Linked DNA regions of Homo sapiens: region 2 is linked to region 1. Evidence: fine-mapped expression QTL. A gene starts in region 1. The other region holds a variant in brackets. All regions are shown on one strand. Distances are from middle to middle.

The links.
Region 2: its variant is fine-mapped to the expression of LINC01983 in esophagus mucosa (GTEx, PIP above 0.99). The same link has a PIP of 0.9 or more in nasal epithelium.

Annotation. Positions count from the first base shown.
Region 1 is chr3:195,859,113-195,862,019 of GRCh38, reverse strand. LINC01983 (long intergenic non-protein coding RNA 1983) reads left to right here and starts at 1,616. Exons shown (of 2, transcript NR_134939.1): 1 at 1,616-1,747. RefSeq lists enhancers at 1,182-1,704, 1,705-2,229.
Region 2 is chr3:195,834,430-195,837,336 of GRCh38, reverse strand. LINC01983 (long intergenic non-protein coding RNA 1983) reads left to right here. Exons shown (of 2, transcript NR_134939.1): 2 at 722-882. Among named protein-coding and RNA genes, the nearest start is that of MUC4, 24 kb to the right of the region's middle. The variant A/G (reference allele first, on the strand shown) is at 1,787.

The DNA.
Region 1 (2,907 bases):
TCGGTTTCTTACTGCTTTCCAGGAAATTACTGGATCAATCAAGGAAACTAGCTCTTTGAGCTTCACATATGATCATGTGAACTTTAGGAAAAGAGGTAAATCATAAGAAAGTAAGCTTAATGACTCGGGTTTATTGAAAACAAAACAGAGGCCATTCAGGGTGAGTCTGGGCCACGTGTGTGTCTGGCTGTAGGCTGGCCTTCGTGGGTAGGCCCCGAGGCTCAGAAGTTCTGAGGCCTGGGAGCTTTGCATATGCCGTTTGCAAAGGCAGGAATTCTATTATTTTAACTGTGATTTAAAATACCTAGTCAAATATATCACAAAAGGGAACAAGTTTTTTTTTTTTTTTTTTTTTTTGAGACGGCATCTTGCTCTGTTGCCCAGGCTAGAGTGCAGTGGTGCAATCTCGGCTCACTGCAACCTCTGCCTCCTGGGTTCAAGTGATTCTCCTGCCTCCGCCACCTGAGTAGCTGGGACCACAGGCGCACACCACCACACCCGACTAATTTTTGGATTTTTAATTTTTGGATTTTTAGTAGAGATGGGGTTTCACCATACTGGTCAGCCTGGTCTTGAACTCCTGACCTCATGATCCGCCCGCCTCGGCCTCCCAAAGTGCTGGGATTACAGGCGTGAGCCACCGCATCCAGCCAGAACAAGTTCATATTAAGTGAGTGTTGAGCATTGCTGTTAGACCTGGATTTCATTCCTAGCTCTGTTTCGTCTTAGAAATGTTATTTCACCTTTCTGAGTCTGTAAACTGATGGAGTAATTCCTGCCTTATAGAAGGGTTGTGAGGACTGACTGAGGTTGTGAAGGTGAAACATTTTGCTTAGAGTATGGGCCACAGTCAGTTCCCACCAAACAGTAGTTATTATAAATGTTATTTCCCCGTGTTCCTGCCTGTTTCTATTAATCAATAGCTCACATTATACACTGACCACACTCTGCGCATAGAATTGTGTTTTACTTTTCTCATTTTCCTTCTGTTTCAGAAAGTTTATTCTTTTGCTCACAATTATCCTATTTATAGATCATAGGTGTTTTTACTTCATTTTAAAAAACACATCAATTTTTTGTAAGCAATCCAGATGTGTGTATGCTTTACAAGCATTTAAAAATCTGTTTCAGAGCCAACACATCCAGAAAGATTTTTGCAGGGGGCAGAGGATGTCAAAGCAGCTCGAGGTTTCTCAGGGGAGCAGGGAACCCAGTGTACTTTTCCTGCCAGACACACAGTTCCCTAAACCCTGGGTTTCCTGCTATGTTTTTCTTGCTTCTAATCGGCCTGCCAGCTTTTCCAGCATCTCCTGGGTTTACTGAAAAGATCTTAAGTTGGGAAGTTGAAACGCTGACCCAGGTGTGTTTGCCAACAGGCAGAATCAACAACAGGCAGAATCAACAACAGGGAGAATCAACAACGGAGAATCAACAACAGGGAGAATCGACAACAGGGAGAATCAACAACAGGCAGAATCAACAACAGGCAGAATCAACAACAGGGAGAATCAACTCAGTGGGGAGGTGTCGGGTGCTTTTTGTGTGTGGAGCCCTGATGAGGAAACACAAGCCAAGTAGAAACAGTCCGTGCCCCAGATGGGTCCACAGCCTTTGGGGGACTGTGACAGCATCACGGCAGGACGGGTGCTCTGTAATCGTTACGCACCAGGTGTCTTGGGAGCAGAGGAGGTGGCTCCCCACAAGGTCACGTTGTGCTGATGTGATGGGTGAGAACGGTGAACGCCAGGTAGGGACGAAAGCGCTGCAGGTGGAGGGCCCTGCAGCCGAGGCGGCGGGCACGAGCCGGCTTGTCCCAGGCACTGAAGTTGGCAAGGCCAGAGCGCATCCTTTTGTTGTTTTGGGGGTGGGTTAGAGGCGGCTCTCGTGATCCTGGCGCGTGAGGCAGGCCTGGATCATGAGGCTGCTGGTGTGGAATGCTGAGTTCTTTTGACTTTGTAGACAAAGGAAGACATCAGGAATAGCCAGAGGGGTAGTGGGGTTGCATCTGGGTGCTCAGGATGGGGCTGCTTGAAAGCGGCTGGCGGCTCCACTGCAGCCACAAAAGGAGGAAAGGCCTAGTGCGTCTCTCCCTGCGGACAAAAGGTTTCCTTAATTGGAAGCAAGTTCATTTGTACAGAAACTGCATTTGGAGGTTGGAGGAACCTCCAACTGCTGGAGTCTTTGTCGAGAGCAAGGGTTCTTGAAGGCCAGTCCAGGGCCGCTGCCGGTCTAGAGTTAAGTTTTCAGCCACCTGAGGTGAAATGATAAGAACTGCAGGACCGAGCTTTTCTTAAAATGAAAGAGATTCCGTTTCAAGGACGGTCTTTATTTGGATGTGTCTTCCTGAGTTCTTGGTACTGAAATGGCTGTTGTTGCGTAGTGGTGGTGGTGGTGTTAGGCGGTAACTGTGTCCCCCGTGCCCTGTCAGGATGCCCCTCACCAATGACTGCTATTTTAATGATCCCCGAAGTCCATCTTGAGGACCCGGGGCCAGAGAGCTTTCGTGTTAGGCAGCACCACCTGTTGGCAAAATGTGGCATTGCAGGCCCTCTGGCTAAATTTCAGAGTGGGAGGGATGAGATTGTGTATTCATTGCCCAATAAATCAATTAATTCCAAATCTGCTGGCTCAAGCCCATGGGTGCTTAAAGGGAGTCAGCCCAGGGAAGCTGGGAGGGGAAGGAACTGGGTCGCCCGCCATCTGGAGCCAAACGGGGACCAGCCAGTATCTAAGGTCAGGAAAGGAGACGGGTGGAGGGCTCTGAAAAACACCACGCCTGCACCTGGGCCAGAAACCTGCGGCTCTGGGCTAGCTGGAGGGAAGCTGAGGGCTGGGAGAGCGGGCAGTCACTCTCCAGCAGAAGTCCTCGCATCACGTCACTCCATTTGGGAAGCCTCAGTTCCACTG
Region 2 (2,907 bases), 25 kb after region 1:
GCCACTCTATAAACTGGAGCAATTCTGGTTTCCCCACACCTCACCCCAAAACTCAGCCCAGGTCCATGCCTCTGTGTCTAAATCCCTTGAGGACATCTGCTCCTTTATTAGTTCAGGGCACCCACAGTTTATGTTTTTGTGTTTAATCCCTGTAACCTGTTCCTTTTGTCCCTGTGTTGCTGGTGTGGTATTTCTGTTGCACAGAAAGGCCTCCCCGGCTGACATCAGGGTGGAGCAGGCCCTCAGTGCCTAGGCAGCATCAGTGACATGGATCGAGAAAGGATGTACCTGAAAAGCCGGTCAAAGGAGAACAAGAAGGGGGCATCCTGGGAGGCTGCTCCCAGGAAAAAGCCTGGTGGGAGGGCAGGGGCCTTGGACACGGGGACCCAGCTCCCCACCTCCCCACCTCAGAGAGGCCTGGGAAATCATTCCTGGCAGTAGCCTGGCCTTGCCCGTCGGACAGTATTAGGGAGGGTGAGGGAAAACACTTCGTGGTCAGGTCAGTTTGGAAAACTTCCTGTAAGGTGGTGTTTGTTTCAGAGCTTTGATGAGGCCGATGCACAGTGCGAATTTCCAGAAGCGGGTGAGCGCAGCCTTCTGCAAGCTTCATTATCCACGGTGTCTTTTTTTTTTTTCTTTTTTTGGAAAGCTGTTCATGCAAGAATGCTCTGTTTTGGGAAATGCAGTCTCACACCCTCCTCTCCCCTAATCCTGTTTCTAGGCTCGTCAAGCTTTCCAATTTGAGTCTTCAGCTATCCAGAAGCTGTGAAGGGGCAGCCCCGTCACCAGACACAATCCTTGCAAAGGGACAGCCTCCATCAGCCTCCATGGAAGACTGACAGACCCACACAGGGGAGAATAAATCAACCTGCAAATGAAGCATTCAGCCAGCTTGGGAGTTCTGCTTTCCATTTTAAATTAATACACCGGCCTTCTGGTTTGTACATCGGTTGTCCTCCCGTGGGTCTGGCTGGTAGGCATTGGTTTCTGAGGGGCTGGCTGTGTCTGGGGCAAGGTGGAGACCTCAATCCTGGGCTGCCGGGATGGGCCAAAGTGACCTTCGATGGAGCATCTCCCAACCCTAGAATTACAGGGATTTATGAAATGTGGACCTTTCCTGAATGTTAAATTTGCTGAGGGCCAAAGGGGTCAACCATCTCAGCAATGGGCAGGGGCCAGAGGTGCACGAGGGAGGAGAGAAGTGAGGAGAAGAAGAGCGATGGATCGGGGTACAGGCGATCAGGCACGGGCAGGCAGGACAGGGGCCTGATGCGGGAGGGCGGTGGTGGGGACGGTGTAGGGAACAGGAGGTGGGAGGAAGCAGGCTGCCATGCAAGCTCACCCCAGGAGAACCAACCGGGAGGAGGGGGTTCCCTGTCCGGGAGGGCTGAGAGATGGCCGAGGCTCTGCTGCAGCCCTGGTGGAGGCCATCCCTGGGAGAGCCTCCGTCTGAGCTCTGGCTCTTGGGGAGGAAGGGCCAGCTGCCAGTGAGGGCCCTGCTGGGCTTCTGGGTGGCGGCAGGAAAGCTCTGGGAACCCGGGACTCAGAGCCTCCTGGGCCTTATCTTCCTGTTTGGACGTTACTTTCAATGGCCACTGCTCTGGTCCTGCTGGCCCGTCCTGGGTGTGAAAGGAGAAAGAGGCTCCTTGTGGGCCTGTGGAGAAGGGTGAGACCCCTTTCTAGAGGACCTCCTCGGCCTCCACTTCTGCCAGGACATCCATGACGGCCGATTCCATTTCCCCTGCCTGGCGCACCTGAGCTCACGGCTGCCCATTCTTCTGCTAGT[A/G]GACGGAGCTGGGACAGGCCTGCCACTCCCTGCACCCCCCTAACCCCCACACGTCCTGGCCCTGTCCCTGGATGCCGTCAGGGCCTGTTCCCCACTCAGTTCTCAGAGCAACCCGGAATGAAACTGTATTTGAAACATCCCCTTACTTCCTTGTTCCTCTTGGCACCCGATCACCTCGGTCCCAGCCCCAAAACTCTCATTGTGCCAGCATCCTCTGGAATCAGAGACCCACCCATGCGGAATCAGAGACCCACCCATGCGGAATCAGAGACCCACCCAGGCAGACTCAGAGTCCGACAGTGTCAGAGCTGAACTGGGTAGTGACCAACTAGCTCAACCTCATTTCACAGACGAGGAAACTGAGTCGCAGGGTGGGGAGGAGCCAGCAAAGGCGGCACGGCAGTGAGACCATCCCCATTTGGGGACCTCCGTGACCTCCCCGAACTGAACAGCACCCATGACAGAGGGCTCCTCTATCCAAATCCAAAGGCCAAGTCCTCCAGTCTCCAAGTGGTCGACGACAGCAGGGGCCATGCTGCCCCATGACCTCTGTGTGTGCCAGGACCACCCAGCCTCCTTGGCTGCCCAGTGGCGAGTCCAGCTCAACCTCCTCCCGGGGCCCCAGCACCCCCGGCACATTTTCTGACTTTACATAGGTCATCGGGTAAATGGTGTCACCTGCATGAGCCTCAGTGTATCCATCTGGGAAAGGGGAAGAACCTCCCAGCAGGCTCTTCTCACAGTGGTATTGCAAAGCGAAAATGAGATTCGGATGCAGACACACGTGGGGAGGGAGCCTGTGAGGCCTCTGCTAAGGCGAAAACCCATAACACACACGACTGGCTCTGCTCAGGCCATCGGCTCTGGGGCCGCCTCGTCCCATGTGGGCTCTGGCTTTGCTGACACCGTTCCCTCATCTGGAGGCTCTTCCTCTGACCCTCAGTGGACCCACTTGACAGATGGTCTGATGTGCCTTCTTCCTTTAAGGAAGACATGGTGTCCTTCTGGTTTTGGAATCAGACCGAGCTGGGTTCAAATCCTGTCTGCTGAATGGTTTTGGTCGCAATGGCTTCTGCTTTCTTAGAAAAAGTCCCAGATTCAGCCGGGTGAGGTGGCTCACA